Homo sapiens: one gene and its partner. The protein of the gene in region 1 binds, or shares a complex with, the protein of each later gene. Each region holds a gene or a part of one and is shown in the gene's direction. Other genes may lie near its edges.

The links. The genes of interacting proteins can lie anywhere in the genome.
Region 2: SMC2 (region 1) and NCAPD2 share a complex: the UniProt entries of both Homo sapiens proteins name them as parts of the condensin complex.

Annotation. Positions count from the first base shown.
Region 1 is NC_000009.12:104,123,694-104,133,656, forward strand, and holds part of SMC2 (structural maintenance of chromosomes protein 2), read left to right. Parts: intron 1-1,218; coding exon 1,219-1,412; intron 1,413-2,947; coding exon 2,948-3,091; intron 3,092-3,592; coding exon 3,593-3,787; intron 3,788-5,951; coding exon 5,952-6,152; intron 6,153-8,315; coding exon 8,316-8,432; intron 8,433-9,963. UniProt on the Homo sapiens protein: Central component of the condensin complex, a complex required for conversion of interphase chromatin into mitotic-like condense chromosomes.
Region 2 is NC_000012.12:6,510,820-6,519,569, forward strand, and holds part of NCAPD2 (condensin complex subunit 1), read left to right. Parts: intron 1-290; coding exon 291-433; intron 434-3,445; coding exon 3,446-3,573; intron 3,574-3,644; coding exon 3,645-3,768; intron 3,769-3,953; coding exon 3,954-4,101; intron 4,102-6,008; coding exon 6,009-6,206; intron 6,207-6,545; coding exon 6,546-6,680; intron 6,681-6,776; coding exon 6,777-6,864; intron 6,865-6,959; coding exon 6,960-7,140; intron 7,141-8,750. UniProt on the Homo sapiens protein: Regulatory subunit of the condensin complex, a complex required for conversion of interphase chromatin into mitotic-like condense chromosomes.

The DNA of each region.
Region 1 (9,963 bases):
AAGAGTCCTAATTTCCTGTAGGTTATGTGCATTGCAAATATCCTTTTACCATCTTTTTTGGCTATGTACTGGTCTTTTAATTTTGTGTTCATAGTATTTTTGTTTTACAAAAGTTTTTAATATTTAGTGTAATTCACTTTATAGCCATTTCCCTAATTTTAAGATAGCTTATATGTTTTCCTTAGAATTTAATTGTATATGGTAGTTTAAATTTTTGTCATTCATTAGGACAATATCCACACATGTGCTTCTCCACTAATATTTTAATAGTATTTTCTGCAGTGAAAAGTAGTGTAAGAAATTGTGCGGTAATGACTTCCAAGGTTATGTTTGCACCTGGGTCCTAACACTCACAATATACATCAGTTGTTACAGCAACACGTGTTCATTCAGTATTGCCCTTTTATTTATTTTTTTGAGACGGAGTCTCTCTCTGTCCCCAGGCTGGAGTGCAGTGGCGCAATCTCAGCTCACTGCAACCTCCACCTCCTGGGTTCAGGTGCCTTCCTCAGCCTCCCGAGTAGCTGGGACTACAGGCGTGCATCACCACACCCAGCTAATTTTTGTATTTTTAGTAGAGATGAGGTTTTATCATGTTGGTCAGGATGGTCTTGATCTCTTGACCTCATGATCTGCCTGCCTTGGCTTCCCAAAGTGCTGGGATTACACAGGCATGAACTACCACGCCTGACCTTATTTTTTTCTTTCACAGATTTGGGGATGTTTTTCCTTTGCTGTATCCCAGGCATACTGTCATATTATTTGTCGACTTTAATGAGAAGTTCCCTGAATATGTATAAAATAGGCAAAGAACATAAAGTAAGCTTGTTTATGAAATTACACACTTTCTAGCAACTATAGAAAAAATACCATAGTTATACTGTTCTGGTTTTAGGAAGCATACAATTGCATTAAAAATATGATCTGTGATTTTTTTTTTTTTAATAGGTTGCTTCAATACCTTTGTAAAAGGATAGTTGTAGGTAAAGTTCAATTTCATAGCAAAAGAAATTATTTTGTTACAGATCTTTAGATAATTCAAGTATGGCTTTTGGGTAGGATCTGTGTTTCATTATACCATTTCTAGAATATCATTGGGATAGTTAATTTTCTTAAATTGTACCCTGTAATTTTCCAAACCATTTCTTCTATTAAAAGTTGAATTTGTCAACCTTTACCATTGTTAACTTAGCCACATTTGCTTACTTTGTGATGCAGAGGAAAGTGAGGAGACTTTGAAAAACACTAAAGAAATCCAAAGAAAAGCAGAAGAAAAATATGAAGTATTGGAAAATAAAATGAAAAATGCAGAAGCTGAAAGAGAGCGAGAACTGAAAGATGCTCAGAAAAAACTGGATTGTGCCAAAACAAAGGCAGATGCATCTAGCAAGAAGATGAAAGAAAAACAACAGGTAATAACTTCTTTTTGAAATTGAACCAACCTTTTAAAGTCAACATAGAGCTGAAGGTGGTAGAGCATCATTGGTTGACCTTATTCATCAGAATTGATCTCAGAATCTAAAAGGGAGCAGTGTTCTTTGGAAACAAATTATGCTTCTTACAAGTCAAAGGAGTATCCAGGATGAGCATCTCAAATCCAAAATACAAATTAGAAACTTTTTGAGTGTTGATCTGAGGCTCAAAGGAAATGTTCATTGGAGCAGATTGGATTTGGGATACTCAGTTACTCTGTATAATGCAAATATTCCAAAATCCAAAAAAAAAATCTGAAGTCTGGAAGACTTCTGGTCCTACACACTTTGGATAAGGGATATTTAATCTGTATTTTTCTCTGAAAACCCTGCAATCGAGTGTTTCATAGTTGTGAGTAGGGGATGCTAATTTTAAGGAAAGGGCAAAGTTGACGGTTGGTAAATGCTTCCTTCAAGAGTGGATGGCCTTTCTTCAGGAGTGGATTATTTGATATTCTGGATGTCATATCAGAGATTCAGCAAGTTGACATTTTTATTTGATAAGCACCTAAATGAATGTGCACTGTGAGAGCATAATGGAAGACAAAGCATGTTATATTTACAAGGTGTCATTCAGTTGTAAACTGATGATACTTTGTTATATCTTTTAGCTAATGCCAAAGCTGGAATCTGAACCTAGGTTTTTGTCTCCAAAGGCTACGTTGTTAATCACTTTTATGCGATTTCACCTAAATATATTTCCCTCGCATTTTTTTTTAGCCCACTCTAAGATTCTTGTCATTAAATAGCTGTAAAAAGTATTTTCTAATGCAGGGGTCCCCAACCCCCCAGGCCACAGACCAGTAACAGAGGAGGTGTGTGACAGGCAAATGAGGATTACTGCCTGAGTTCCACCTTGTGTCAGATCAGCTGTGGCATTAGATTCTCAGAGGAGTGCAGACCCTTTTCTGAACTGTGCATGCAAGGGATCTAGGTTGCATATTCCTTATGAGAATCTAATGCGTGATGATCTGAGATGGGGTGGTTTTATCCTGAAACCATACTCTCTCCCTGTGCCCGCCATATGGAAAAATCATCTTCCACAAATCTGGTCCTCGGTGCCAAAAAGGTTGGGGACTGCTCTTCTAATGAACTGAAGGCTATAGTGGGAAAGAAGAATATTGAGAAACTTTTTACACATTGAACAATTTTGTTTTTAAAAAAGCTTTACTTCCAGTAATTCATCTGTTACGTAGAATGTTATATTATTTTCCCTATAGGAATAAAGGATAAAGAAAATAATTTATGCAGAGTTCTTTGAACCTATAAAAATTACACATACTTTTTTTTTTGATATAGGAAAATAAACTTCCTTTTCTGGGGAAGCAGCTTAACCTGTACTTTCGGTAGCTGAGTGGTAACAAAGCTGTGGGTCTTACTTGCATGAGATTATTATTTATTTAATTGTTCTGTACATATTTGTTTTTCAGTAGTTAATAACCTATATGAATACCTGAATACTGTATTTTTTATAGGAAGTTGAAGCTATCACTCTGGAACTGGAAGAGCTCAAGAGAGAGCATACATCTTACAAACAACAGCTTGAAGCTGTAAATGAAGCTATCAAATCCTATGAAAGTCAGATTGAAGTAATGGCAGCTGAGGTGGCTAAAAATAAGGTAGGATTTATTTATCAAATTCGAGAAATTGAAAATGCGAATCTTTTTATGAAACATTAGCTTAAGATGTTTGACTTTAGTGTTCTCAGTCTTTTCACTCGTCATCATGAGAGAATGAGGCACAAATAGCTTTTACTCATCCAGAATTGCCAGTTTTGGGATCACATAGGTCAGTCAGCTTCTAGCAGTCCCTCTTCTTCCTCACTTAGTTGATTCCATCTACATTACATCTAACAAAAAACGCTCTCATTTGCAGCATGAGCGTGCAGCATGAGCATTGTACCTCCCACCCCTTTTACCAGGGATGATCCAAGTTTTCTTCTGTGTATAAATTGATTAGTCCTTTTAATGGTGATATAAAATATAGAGGGTTAGGTGATCATCTCTCTGCCTGTAATCACATTGCCCTCTTGCCCAGGGATCTGTCAGATAATTGTTTAGTAAATTAAAATTATTTACATGTTACCTCACCACATATTTTCTTTAATTTTTTTGTTTTAGGAGTCAGTAAATAAAGCTCAAGAAGAGGTGACCAAGCAAAAAGAGGTGATAACAGCCCAAGACACTGTAATTAAAGCTAAATATGCAGAAGTGGCAAAACACAAGGAGCAAAACAATGATTCTCAGCTTAAAATTAAGGAATTAGACCACAACATCAGCAAACATAAACGGGAGGCTGAAGATGGTGCTGCAAAGGTATACGTTTGTGTGCATTTTTTATACTAAATCAAATTTTTGTTACTGAGCTCTTGAAAAAATTTAGAAAACTGCTTGATAGAGAACTCTATAAATATAAATGGCAAAATTACAGCCTGGCATAAATTTGAGCTTGCAGCTTTAACTGCTTTTCAACAATGCTAATTTTCAACAAATTGCACAAATGTTTTATTTTTAGATTTAACTTTAGATATTTTTTCCCATCTACAGGATGTATTTACCAAATGTTTAGTGGTCTCCCATGGAAATAACTTTTCACCTCCAAATGTTGATAGAACTAATTACTGATGTGCTAGTAATAATGATATATATTCTCTACCTTATTTCAAATTGAATTAAAAAACTCACAGAACTATATATACAGGTAATCTAAAAAAAGGACTGAATTGGCTTCCACATGTCTTTATGAGTGTTACTGCTGTCAGTATTTGCAACTTTATAAAAAATCTGATGTTTTGCCAAGCAGCTATGTTTTTGAGGTTATCCCAGTTTCTTTCTTTCATGTGTCACAGCACCTTTACTTCAGTGCTTTAAAGATAACACGTGCTTTTGCAGAAATTCATTGCTTGGTTAAGAAGCTGCATTCACATGGTATTAATAATTCATCTAGCATGTTTTCTTATGAGTGTGTAACAGTTTGGCACCTTTTTAATGTCCAGGATATTTTTTTTTAGCATCCTAAAAATACATGAACTTTAACTTCAGAAAGATCAAGAACATACAAAACAATCTCCCTCTCTTCTGAAAGAACTGTGGAACTTGATTTAAACAACATTTTTCATGGCTACATTATAATCTACCACTTTATTACTATTGATTTCCCATTAGCTTAGTGATAGTGGACTGACTGAAATACTACCAATGGCAATGTTACTGCTAATAGTTTTTTGGTAATTGAAAATGCTAGTACTGGCGATTGCTAGGAGATTTTATTTACAAGAGTAAAAGGAGGGACTTGCAAGTGGGTCTGCTAAGAAGTCAATCAAAGATTTATACATACCTACCAGTATCAGATACTGTGCCAGGCACTGACAATGTAAGGATGAGCAACACATACAGGATGCTTTCAAAGAGTTTACAGGTCAAAAGGAAGATACACTAGAAATGATAATTGTACTTTGGGGCCTACAGGTGAGACCATATCCATGGAATTAATACAAGTCAATAAATTAACAAGGATTGGATTCTGCCAGTGAGAATGAATCATAATTCTAGTAGAAGAAAGTCTTCTTTAGGCACTATAATTTGAACTGTATAATCAGTTGTATTACATGAAAAATTATTATACAGTGCCTTTTTCAATATACTGTGCCTTTTTCAAAAGGTGGGGAGCAGGATAGAGTCAATGTTTAGGGCAGTTTCTTAGAATATATTTCTGAGAGAAAAATTATTAGGTCTCAGTCAGCATTAGGCTTCCATGATTTTTACCAAATCTATGACTTAAGTATTAAAAGAGTTTTAGCTTCTCATAAGTTGTGTTTTGAAGCAATAGATTGAATTTGGTAAATTCTGAAGGAGTTCTACCTGACTTACATTTCATTCTAATGGAGGTGCTTTGCGTATACTTCGTAAAAATTTCTCTGTGAGTTGGCTCTTCTAATGCCAAAGTAATAGGAAGATCTTTTGCTATACAGTGTCTTGTTTCTGTAGTCTGTGTTCCAGGTAAAAATATTCATCTTTATTCTTGTCAGTAATGAAACTCATTTTTAAAAATGAGTCGCCTAGGCACGGTGGCTCACGCCTGTAATCCCAGCACTTTGGGAGGCCGAGGTTGGCAGATCACCTGAGGTCGGGAGTTCCAGATCAGCCTGACCAACATGGAGAAACCCCGTCTCTACTAAAAATACAAAATTAGCTGGGCGTGGTGGTACATACCTGTGATCCCAGTTACTCAGGAGGCTGAGGCAGCAGAATCACTTGAACCTGGGAGGTGTAAGTTGCGGTCAGCCAAGATCGCGCCATTGCACTCCAGCTTGGGCAACAAGAGTGAAACTCCATCTCAAAAAAAAAAAAAAAATTAGTCATTGAAGGTTTTTTCCTCTTCAGTATTTGATTCAAAAGTATTAAATAGTTAAGAAACTGGCTTATACATATTGGTTTGTAAACATTCATAGATCTCCCATCTATTTTTATATGTGGCTAGGTATCCAAAATGTTGAAAGATTATGACTGGATTAATGCAGAGAGACACCTCTTTGGCCAACCCAATAGTGCCTATGATTTCAAAACTAACAACCCTAAAGAAGCTGGTCAGAGACTTCAGAAGTTGCAAGAAATGAAGGAGAAACTAGGAAGAAATGTCAATATGAGAGCTATGAATGTATTGACAGAAGCTGAAGAGCGAGTAAGTCAATTTCTTATGAATATCTGGCCGCATTAGAACATGACTAGCATTGACAGCTCTGTATGACCTCTGATGCAATTATTAGAGTTAACCTTTTGCAGATGTCCTTGATACTTTTCTTTCTGCTTTCCTTTTTCTCTTTTCGTCATTTTTTTCTTATTACTCTTATGCATCATTAGTTGTTTTTACATTCTATTACACCTGGAATGACTTTTTCACTGGCTTTTGTTCTTTGTCAAACATAATTCCTCACATTTCTATCATTTCATTTCTTTCACTTGCATTGAAAAGCCTTGAATAGGATATACTTCTGTCATCCTCTTGACTCTACTGTATACTGAAACTATATAAGTAATGACTAAAGCCATTATACACATAAATACTGTTTCACTGATCTGTAAATTCTGCAGCCTCTTCTCAGTTTTAATGCTCTCAATTACTCAATAATGTTATTCTTCCCTAACCTGACAAAACTTTGAGTCTGGGAAGGGAGTTTACTGTCATCTAGTGATGAACTTGGGAGGACCTATCACTAGAAAAACCCAGTGGGGGAAGCATTCCCTACTCTTAAGATAGCCATAAGAAATGGCTATCTTAGTAATTTTATATTAATGCCCCTATTAATGCCCCATACCTTCCTGAATGCTGGAAAATTCTGTTTGAATTTGCAAATCAGAGTAAAATTCATGAGAAATCTGCGACACTGATAATAGCACAGTTACTTTGAAGAAATTTTACCATAATTTTTTTTAACTGTTTTTGGCATGAATATGCACAAAGAGTCTATATTATATTAGATACCAAACAGATGAATCATGCAGGTATTGTGATCTCTCTAGAAAATGCTCCTGCTGGTTTTCATTTCTACATTAAAGCTTTGCAATATGTGATATATTTGTAGAAGGAAAACTTTGGTCTGAATTTGATCTGCATAACATGAAACTTGTTCACTTTTACTCGTTTACTTCTATTAGATGAGACCTGAGTCTAATATTTTTTTCAAAAGAATTTATCAACTCCCATCTCTTTACCAGAGGAGAAGCCTATATTGTTGATCAGCAGATGGCCTTTTTTTTTCTTGTGTTTTGTATCTATCTACATAAGCAATTACATGGATTTTCATGAAAAAATAAGATAAAAATGTAGAGAGAAGGTTAGGGGAGCGTGGCTGTAAAGAAGAGGGACAGCAAGGAAAACAGCAGGACTGACTAGAATTGTTAAAGGTGAATGTGAAGCCTCCTTGAAATGTAGGGCTTTGAGGAGAAATGAATTAGGAAGAGTTTTAGGAAGTCCCATTGCTGTTCATGGTATGATTATCCCTCTACAGCCTTGCTTGAAGGAAGACTACTCTAAAGTGGTGATATTTGAGCTGAAATTTCAGGCAACCGTTATGTCAGAGAAAGAGCATTCCAGGAAGGGAGAATAGTGCAGGGGCCATAAGACAATAGTGAGTTTATTATGTTCAAAGGAGCTGTAAAAGACCATATGGCCAGAACCTGGGGAGGAGTTTAATGCCATAAAGTCAAGGGATAAATAAGGTCCAATTCCCTTTATCCTGATGCATACAGGGCTTAAAACCTGGTTGATTGGTGCAGCAAGCCATCATGGCACATGTATACCTATGTAACAAACCTGCACATTCTGCACATGTATCCCAAAACTTAAAATTAAAAAAAAGTAAGGTCCAATTTATGTGGTTCCTATATATCATGGTGAAGGATCAAAATTTTGTTCATGTCACTGCTAAGGCTGACCTTAAGAGGAGAGCTTTCAGGGCTCCTTTTACTTAAGTTTATATGTAACACTTTTTTTTTTTTTTTTTGCCTTGGCTGCTAAGGAGATAAGGGAATATTAGTGGAGTCAAAATATTTTAAGGACTTTGTCTTATAAATTCTTAGTTCTAGTAATTTAGTTATATACATATGGATGATTTTATTCCTAATTTTGTTAAGAGTGTGTATATGAGTGTGTATATACACACACATCATACAGTATATGTATAGTATATGAGTATATATAATTCTTAGTGCATTATATCTTTTTGGTAAATAGCAATGTATGTATTGTATATAAAAATAATGAAAACTGTTTATTTCTGACCAAATTCCAGAATATAGAAGAGATTTTATATTTTCCCAGTTAACCATGTTTTTTATCTCATAGTACAATGACTTGATGAAGAAGAAGAGAATTGTAGAAAATGACAAATCCAAAATTCTTACAACTATAGAAGACCTTGACCAGAAGAAAAACCAAGCCCTAAATATTGCATGGCAAAAGGTACTTTTTATGTTTGTTTTATATGAGGTTGCAAGGATGAAAAAATATCATCAGTGGAGTTATACTCTATAAGAAATTTGAAATAGCTGATCTATGTTTGAATGAGGCACATATTCACACCTTAATTAAAACCTCTGACTTTTAAATGCATTTTTTTCTTTTTGAACTTGACTACTACCAGATCCTGGCATTCTTGTACTTCTGTAAGAATTGGATAGTAAACAAGCCAAGTTTAGTATTCTCTTTTACAGGATGCTTATTCAACAAAATCCCAATTCCATTTTGTTTTATGACAACTTTGGCAGATCTTAGGCTTCTTTACTGTTACTTCTACTTCCCTGACTTCATGTATCTGTCTCCTATAGGATAATTCCTTAGCCTCTCATGTGGAAGTTTTTCCATTTTTACTATAGCGGAAGATTCTTACTTCAGAGATTCCAAACATAGAGTTACTGTGCTGTTTGGTAGTTTAGCAAACCTGTGCCTTCTGGGTTTTAATGGGGCACCTTGCCTCTTTTTCTCTTTGTAATTCTGTAGGAACTCTATCTTCAGTAATGCAGCACAATTATCCCTTTTAGTCACCTTGTTTTTTTCTTCTCTAAGACTTATTTTCAGTGCTCCATTCCCTGTAATATTTTTCTCTTAAAAATGGAAGCAAAAGGCTGACCCTATTAATTAGTGTGCAGCATGTCGATTTAACACTGGATCTGAGAGGTTTTTTTTTTTTTCTTTTTTCCCACCAGGATTCGTGGACTTAGTACAAATCAGAATCTATTGTCTAAACATATCCTGCTCTTCCCAAATTTCCAAGGTTCTTCCAAAGCCAGTAACATTTATTCAGTGCTTATTATATGCCAGTCACTATTCTCAAATTAATTTTCTCATCTAATCTTCACAATAATCTAACAAAGTAGGTACTGTTATCAGCATTATATTCTTCCTTCTGGCTTCAGGCTTACTTGATTGACAAAGTGACAAAGCCAGAGTATTCTAGGCTTTTTTTGTTTTTGGTTTGTTTTCTTCATAGCCTCATTGGACTTGCAGAATTCTCTTTTATTTCATCTTTATATCGATCTATGAATATAACTCATTTTCTGTGTAGCATAGGGCTGTATTCTTCTCTGTCCATTCTCTTTTGGAGGAAGTTTCACACTGGGTCTCTGGTTCAAGTTTAGTAGCATTCCTCTCTCTTGGTCCTGAGCTGCCTGTCCCACACTTGGCCTAGAACCTGCTTCCACTCTGTAGGATATTATTCAGCAGCCATGTACTTGCTTTTAAAATGTGTGTTACTTAGTAAATCTATATTTAGGATCACTGCTTGTGTCTATGAGATTTTCTTGTTACTATAAGTATTCATTAAAAAGTATATTTACATTTGAATATTGTATACCTGCATTGGAATTTGGAGATTTCTCTAGAGAACTTGGCTGTCAAGTCCTTTGTGTGTATGTGTGTTATGCTTTCAAGTTTGACTGCCGAACTAAGAATATTAGTCATGTCTTTGAAGACAGATGGCCAAATTCCCAAATCA
Region 2 (8,750 bases), on another chromosome or scaffold:
AGTTTTGGGCTCACGTTATATGGGGTCTGGGGAGATAGGGGAATAGATGGAAAAGAAGGGAATCCAATGATCCACAAATCCTTTCTGTCCTCATTGAGAATTTAGGAGAAAGAACTCAAAAGTGTCACACGTTTTCTTCCTGGACAAGTAGCGCTGTGGAACTTGTAATATTTCTTCCGTATTACCTTCTATGTTGTCTTGGTACTAGATTGTTTGGGCACTCAGACTGACAGATCTTGACCCACTTTTTTCCCTTATTTTTTCCTCAATGTATACATGATCCTTTTTAGGGTAAGAAAGCTCGGACCAAGGCAGCCCATGGCTTTGACTGGGAAGAAGAGAGGCAACCAATTCTTCAGCTTTTAACACAGCTACTTCAGTTGGACATCCGTCACCTGTGGAACCACTCAATAATTGAAGAAGAATTTGTCAGGTGGGTAGGGAGGATGGCTACAGATAATACTGAGCTGTGAGAGTGAGGCTCTGTTGATAGATATGCCGTTTTTTTGGTTTTGTTTTTTTTTTGTGGGGGGACAGAGCTTCACTCTTGTCGCCCAGGCTGGAGCGCAGTGGTTCAATCTCGGCTCACTGCAGCCTCTACCTCCTGGGTTCAAGCAATTTTCCTGCCTCAGCCTCCCGAGTAGCTGGGATTACAGGTGCCCGCCACCACAAGCTGATTTTTGTATTTTTAATAGAGACGGGTTTTGCCATGTTGGCCAGGCTGGTCTTGAACTCCTAACCTCAGGTGATCTCCCTGCTTTGGCCCCCCAAAGTGCTGGGATTACAGGTGTGAGCCACCACGCCCAGCCAGAAGTCTATTTTTAAAATAAGTAAAATAAGTTTGATGGAAGAAGGTTGTGATTTTAAATCAGCTACTCTAGGCCCGGTGCGGTGGCTCACGCCTATAATCCCAGCACTCTGGGAGGCCGAGGCGAGTGGATCACCTGAGGTCAGGAGTTCAAGACCGGCCTGGCCAACATGGTGAAACCTTGTCTCTACTAAAAAAATATGAAAATTAGCTGTGCATGGTGGTGTGTGCCTGTAATGCCAGCTACTTGGGAGGCTGAGGCAGGAGCATCACTTGAACCTGGGAGAGGGAGGTTGCAATGAGCTGAGATCGCACCATTGCACTCCATCCTGGGCGACAAGAGCAAAATCCCGTCTCAAAAAAAATAGATAGGGCCAGGCGCGGTGGCTCACGCCTGTAATCCCAGCACTTTGGGAGGCTGAGGCAGGTGGATCACGAGGTCAGGAGATCGAGACCACGGTGAAACCCCGTCTCTACTAAAAATACAAAAAAAAATTAGCCGGGCATGGTGGCGGGCGCCTCTAGTCCCAGCTACTCAGGAGGCTGAGGCAGGAGAATGGCGTGAACCCGGGAGGTGGAGCTTGCAGTGACCTGAGATCGCGCCACTGCACTCCAGCCTGGGCAACAGAGCAAGACTCCATCTCCAAAAAAAAAAAAAAAAAAAAAGATAGATAGATAGATAGACAGACAGACAAACAGACAGACAAGCTACTCTAGTAAGACTTCTTTGAGATGGTGACATTTGAGCAAAGACCCAGAGGAGGTGACTGAGAGCTATGAGAATATGTGGAGGAATAGCAAGGGCAGGGAAAAGGAATAGCATATGCAAAGACCTTGAGGAGGGAGCATGTCCAGCACGTACGAGCAATAGCAAGGAGGCCAGAGAGCTGACAGCTGAGAGCAGGTACGAGGGTTAGGCCGTGAGGCCATGGGAGCAGTGGGGAGCCAGACCGCAGGTTCTTGTGGGCCATCATGGTGACTTTGGCATTTCCTCAGAATGAAGTGGAGCCACTGGGGAGCCACAAGCAGGGAGGTGAGGTGACCTGACTTGTACTTCAACAGGGCCATCCTAGCTGTTGTATTGAAATCGACTATGGAGGGAAAGGGGAAGCAAGAGACCAGTTAAGAGGCTGTTCCAATAACTCAAGCAAGAGATGATGGTCTCTTAGACCAAGGCGTGGCAGTGGAGATGGGGAGAAGTAGTTGGATTCTATACTTTTTCCTTAAGGTAGAGCTTACAGGATTTGCTAACAGACTGGGTGTGAGGTGGGAGGGAGAGTTCAGTCAAGGATGACTCTCCCGGGTTTTGGTCTGAGCATTTGGAAGACTGGAGTTAATGGTAACTGAGATAGGGAGAAGGCTGTGAATAGGTGTTTTGGGAGGAAGATCAGATGTTCTGTTTTGGACATACAAAGTTTGAGGTGTTTATTAGCCACGTAAAGTCAGATTTGGACGTTGAATATATAGATCTGGAGTTCAGGAGAGAGGTCTGAGCTAGAGATAACACATTTGGGAATATAATAGTATTCAGAGCCGTGAGACTGAATGAAATTACCAAATCAGTAAGTGTAGCTAAAAGAGCAGGAATCCAAGGACTGGTACCCTAGGGCACTCCAGCATTAAGAGTGAGGATGCCGGGTGCATGGCTCACGCCTATAATCCTAGCACTTTGGGAGGCTGAGGCAGGAGGATCACTTGAGCCCAGGAGTTTGAGATCAGCCTGGACAACATAGTGAAACTGTGTCTCTACAAAAAATAGAAAAATTAGCTGGGCATGGTGGAGGCTGAGGTGGGAGCATCACCTGAGCTATGAGGAGGTCAAGGATGCAGTGAGCCGTGATTGCACCACTGCACTCCAGCCTGGGCAACAGAGGCAGACCCTGTCTCAAAAAAAAGAGTCTGAGGAGGAACTAGCCAAAGAAACTGAGAAAGGAGTCTTGTTCTTGTGTCCTGGAAGCGAGATAAAGCATATATTTCAAGGAGAAAGTGAGTGATTAACTGTATCACATGCAGCTGTGAAAGACCACTTGAGATGCAGATTGAATCAGTCGTTATATTTAGGAATGAGAAGTCATTGGTGACTTTGTCTTTTTTTTTTTTTTTTTTGTGATGGAGTCTCGCAATGTCGCCTGGCCTGGAGTGCAGTGGCATGATATCAGCTCACTGCAACCTCCACCTCCCAGGTTCAAGGGATTCTCCTGCCTCAGCCTCCCAAGTAGCTGGGATTACAGGCGCCCACCACCACACCCAGCTAATTTTTTGTATTTTTAGTAGAGACAGGGTTTCACTATGTTGGCCAAGCTGGTCTTGAATGCCTGACCTCGTGATCCACCTGCCTCGGCCTCCCAAAGTGCTGGGATTACAGGCATGAGCCACCACACCCGGCCAACTCTATCATATTTTTATGATATATTTAGGTTCTTTGTCAGCATCACAACTGGTTGAAAGTTGGTAATCTTGAAGGAAGGAGTACCTAACTGGGGTCAGCAAAGCAAAGCAACTTGTTATAGAAAGTAATGGCTAGAATAAAGAAAACCCTGACTTTGGGAGCAGTAGGGATAGAATGAATGAGGCAGGGCTCTGATACAATTGGATTCAGACAGCTGCTTTCATCATCTCAAACTCTTCCTTTCTCAGTTTGGTTACTGGCTGTTGCTACCGCCTTCTGGAGAATCCCACCATTAATCACCAGAAGAACCGCCCCACTCGGGAAGCCATAACACACCTGCTTGGTGTAGCCTTGACCCGTTATAACCATATGCTCAGTAAGTTACCAGTCGCTTTGCCCCGCCTTTTTTGTATTGCCCATAATTTCTCATGTTTAATGCTTCCACAGGTGCTACAGTGAAGATCATCCAGATGCTGCAGCACTTTGAACACCTGGCACCTGTACTGGTTGCAGCCGTGAGTCTATGGGCAACTGACTATGGAATGAAGAGCATAGTGGGAGAGATTGTAAGGTGACTCTTCCTTCTCGAAGTTTCTCATGCTTATTTTCCTTGGGGAGGGAATAAAGAAAGATTGGAAATACATTATCTGTGCAACAGTAGATTCCTTCAGATATTAGATACCTGTCTTACCTTCCCTTACTGGGAACTGAATAATTGATCTATGTTGCTATGGCTGTGTTTTCTTCCCTGTGTAGAGAGATTGGACAAAAGTGTCCCCAAGAGCTGAGTCGAGACCCTTCAGGGACAAAGGGCTTTGCAGCATTCCTGACAGAACTAGCAGAACGTGTCCCAGCTATCCTGATGTCCAGCATGTGCATTTTGCTAGATCACCTGGATGGAGAAGTAGGTGGTCCACTAGGGGTCACTGAGCTTTTTCTGGGGATTTTAAGTCCAGTGTTGAAAGGCTGTTTCTTAACAGAACAAGAAAGTAGCTTTGACAAGTTGTCTAGATTTATCATTGTGACATTTCCTTTCTGTAGAGAAGCAGGTCAAGTTTGTTGAATAAGGAGCTCTTTATTAATCTGTTAATCTTTCAATTCACATTGCTTTTATCCAGTTCTGGTAAGGGAGATGACATTTCTGCAGCTTAAGTCTAGTAAGAGCAACTCAGCTTTGATTTTTTTTTTTTCTTGGAGGTAGGATCTGGCTCTGTCACCCATGCTGGAGCATGATCATAGCTCATTGCAGCCTCGATCTCCTGGGCTCAAGCAATCCTCCCACCTCAGCCTCCCAAGTAGCTGGGACTTCAGGCACATACTACCATGCCTGGCTAATTTTTTTAGTTTTTGTAGAGGTGGGGTCTTGCCATATTGCCCAGGCTAGTCTCAAACTCCTGGTCTCAAGCAACCCTCCTGCCTCAGCCTCCCAAAGTGCTGGGATTGCAGGCGCTACCATGCTTAGCCTTCAGCTTTGATTCTGAGTCCCATCTGTTCCTCAGGATAAAGCGTCTTCCCACCAGCTGGCTTGCCTTGCTTCCTCAAACAATGAACTTTCTCAAATCAACCCATGTCATCTCTCTCAATTCTCTTTTATGCCTGAATGCTAACCTGGCTGATTCCCATACTGATGTTGGGCACTCCTAGGTGAATGTCAAGGACAAAGACAGTCCACTTGTTCATCTCATTTACTTTAACTTTTTGTGCAAGACCCTATTCTCTGGTTCTTAGCCTGGCAAAACCTTAACCCTGCTCTCCACTAGATTATGTATTGGACTTGCTGGCACTCTTAAGGCTGATTTCCATGTTTCTGTCTCATTTTCTGTCAGTAAAGCATCTGAAGGAGAGTGGGAGGGAAAGGAGGGGATATTTATTAGTAAGGATTAAAGACTTTGAGGCCAGGTGTGGTGGCTCACGCCTGTAATCCCAGCACTTTGGGAGGCTGAGGTGAGTGGATCACTTGAGGTCAAGAGTTTAAGACTAGCCTGGCCAACATGGTGAAATCCCATCTCTACTAAAAATACAAAAAAAAATTAGCTGGGTGTGGTGGCGCGCACCTGTAATCCTAGCTACTCGGGAGGCTGAAGTGGGAGGGTTGCTTGAACCTGGGAAATGGAGGTTACAGTGAGCCGAGATCGCACCACTGCACTCCAACCTGGGTGACAAAACGAGACTCTGTCTCAAAAAAAAAACCAAAAAAAACCACACAGACGGGCGCGGTGGCTCACGCCTATAATCTCAGCACTTTGGGAGGCCGAGGAGGGTGGATCACGAGGTCAGGAGTTTGAGACCAGCCTGGCCAATATGGTGAAATCCTGTCTCTACTAAAAATACAAAAATTAGCTGGGTGTGGTGGCGGGCACCTGTAATCCCAGCTGCTTGGGAGGCTGAGGCAGGAGAATCACTTGAACCCGGGAGTCAGAGGTTGCAGTGAGCCGAGATGGCGCCACAGCACTCCAGCCTGGGCAACAGAGCAAGACTCCGTCTCAAAAACAAACAAACAACCACAATAACAAAGGCTTTGAGACCTCAGCTGAAGGGTAGTTAATAAATGCTTTTCAAATGTGTGTTGGTGAGTGGATGTGATTTTTTTATTCAGCTACTACCATGCTTTCCTGTGTGAGCCCTATGAGGAAAAATTGGTTTTGGCCCTTGTTCTAGCATTCTCTGAGCAACAAGTCCTCTTTGGGATTCAGCTTTCTCCTGTGACCTTGGGAGTGAATACCTAGGCAGTTAATGGAAAAAGTTATGGCCAAGCACAAGCAAGCTTCGCCTTGACTAAAGGTTTGACCCCTCTATGCTTCTCTCTCTTAGAATTACATGATGCGTAATGCTGTGCTGGCAGCCATGGCGGAGATGGTGCTGCAGGTTCTCAGTGGCGATCAACTGGAAGCAGCAGCCCGAGACACCAGAGACCAGTTCTTGGATACTTTACAAGCCCATGGCCATGATGTCAACTCCTTTGTGCGGAGCCGTGTTTTGCAGCTCTTCACCCGAATTGTCCAGCAGAAGGTAACCAACTTCTATGTGGCAAAAACATATGGTACCTCTCCATATACCAGTGTAAAGAGGAATCCAGTGTTGAAGATAAATATCTGCCCCAAAGAGGTCTAGAATTCACATTTTTATTATCAGTAGTAAAAGTCTTCCTCTACCAAGGACGAGGATATCTGGCTCCCTTTAAGGACTGTAATGTGTCTTACCACTACAAGGAGTACTCCTAATCTATATTCTGTAGAAAGGGTTTTTAGAGTGAGTGGGTAGCTCAGTTTAGAGTATACTTAAAGATCATCTTGAACAAAATGGATGATGTGGGACTTGAGCAGATTCTTCTCTTCCTACCCTACACAGGCTCTCCCCCTGACACGTTTCCAGGCAGTGGTGGCTTTAGCTGTGGGACGTCTGGCAGACAAGTCAGTGCTAGTATGTAAAAATGCCATCCAGCTGCTGGCCAGTTTTCTAGCCAATAATCCTTTCTCCTGCAAGGTAAGTAGACTTGGTCCACCAAAAGAGAAGGAATTAAATGGAAACAGGGATGAAATTATGTCATTTACTGACCCTGCTATTCATTTTACCTGATAGCTTAGTGATGCTGACCTTGCCGGACCACTGCAGAAGGAGACCCAGAAATTACAAGAGATGAGGGCCCAGAGGCGAACTGCAGCAGCTTGTAAGTAGTTACTGCCTTGGAGTCCTAATGCCAGACAGGCTTCTCCTTGCAGTCAGAAACTCTAGTGAAAGAGACTAAGTGACACTCTCATTTAGCTGCAGTGCTGGACCCAGAGGAGGAGTGGGAAGCCATGCTGCCAGAGTTGAAGTCTACCCTGCAGCAGCTTCTACAGCTTCCCCAGGGAGAGGAGGAGATTCCTGAGCAAATTGCCAATACAGAGACAACTGAAGATGTGAAAGGACGCATCTATCAACTGCTTGCCAAAGCTAGTTACAAGTAGGCAAAAGAATGGGATATTCTTCGTGATCTGTTTATGTTTAGAGTTAACCTTTGAGAAACTTACATAATGTGTCTTTTAAATTAACTGCACACAGATATGCTGCCACCAGGTGATGGTAGATGTTTTCATGTAGTAATGGTCTGACCATAGGCCTAGTCCACAATTAAGCATGTGTTTCTACTTTATAAATGTTTAAAAAAACTACTGAAACAATTAAATGTTAACAGTATTATAATCAAACATGAGTCCTCCTTCAATTGAAGAAGAGCACCTATAAATAAGTTCTAGTTGTATGATCTTGAATAAGTTGCTTAACTTTCTGTGCCTCGGTTTCATTATCTATAAAATAAGAAATTGATTAGATCTTATGATCTCTAAGGACTTTCTAATTCTAAATTTCATGAACTAATAATATCAAACATGCTTAATACTACCTTAATCTTCAAACCTAGTATGAATCCTGATCTTAGAGAAAAGATTTCTCCTAGTGTTTTTGTGACTCTAGAACTTAACAACAAAAGCCCTTACAGCCGTCAACAAGTTTTTTTTTTTTTTTTTTTTTTTTTTTTTTGAGATGGAGTCTCACTCACTCTGTTGCCCAGGCTGCAGTACAGTGACACGATCTTGGCTCACTGCAACCTCTGCCTCCCAGGTTCAAGCAATTCTCGTGCCTCAGCCTCCCAAGTAGCTGGGACCACAGGCGCGCACCACCACACCGCACTAATTTTTTTATTTTTAGTAGAGACAGGGTTTCACCATATTGGCCAGGCTGGTCTTGAACTCCTGACCTCAGGTGATCCACCCATCTCAGCCTCCCAAAGTGCCATGATTACAGGCGTGAGCCACCGCACTCGGCTGCCAACAAGTATTCTTAAACCTCAGCCACAAGTTATTTGTTATTTATTTACTTCTTACCTAATTGGGCTGAATTTTTTTTTTGGAGACGGAGTCTTGCTCTGTTGCCCAGGCTGGAGTGCAGTGGTGCGATCTTGGCTCACTGCAACCTCCACCTCCTGGGTTCACGCCATTCTCCTGCCTCAGCCTCCCGAGTAGCTGGGACTACAGGCGCCCGCCACCACGCCCGGCTAATTTTTTTTTTTATATTTTTAGTAGAGACGGGGTTTCACCGTGTTAGCCAGGATGGTCTCAATCTCCTGACCTCGTGATCCGCCTGCCTCGGCCTCCCAAAGTGCTGGGATTACAGGCTTGAGCCACCGTGCCCGGCTTGGGCTGTTTTTAGAAGGCTAGAGAGTGGCTTGTTTGCCCTATGACTCCCTTATGTTACTTTAGTGTCTCTCTTTTTATTTTGCTAAAGCAAAAATAGAGACTATAGTTTTATAAGTGCATGTTCCACCAAGCATTCTAGTATTTTCTCCTGTCAATTAGAAAAGGATTGTTTGTTTTTGAGACAGAATCTCACTGTTGCCCAGGCTGGAGTACAGTAGCGCAATCACAGCTCACTGCAGCCTCTCACTGTAGCCTCAACCCTGCTGGGCTCAAGCGATCTCCCACATTAGCCTCCTGAGTAGCCTGGTTAATTTATTTATAATTTGTAGCTGGGATTACAGGTACACACCACCAGGCCTGGCCTTTGCCAGCCTGGGCA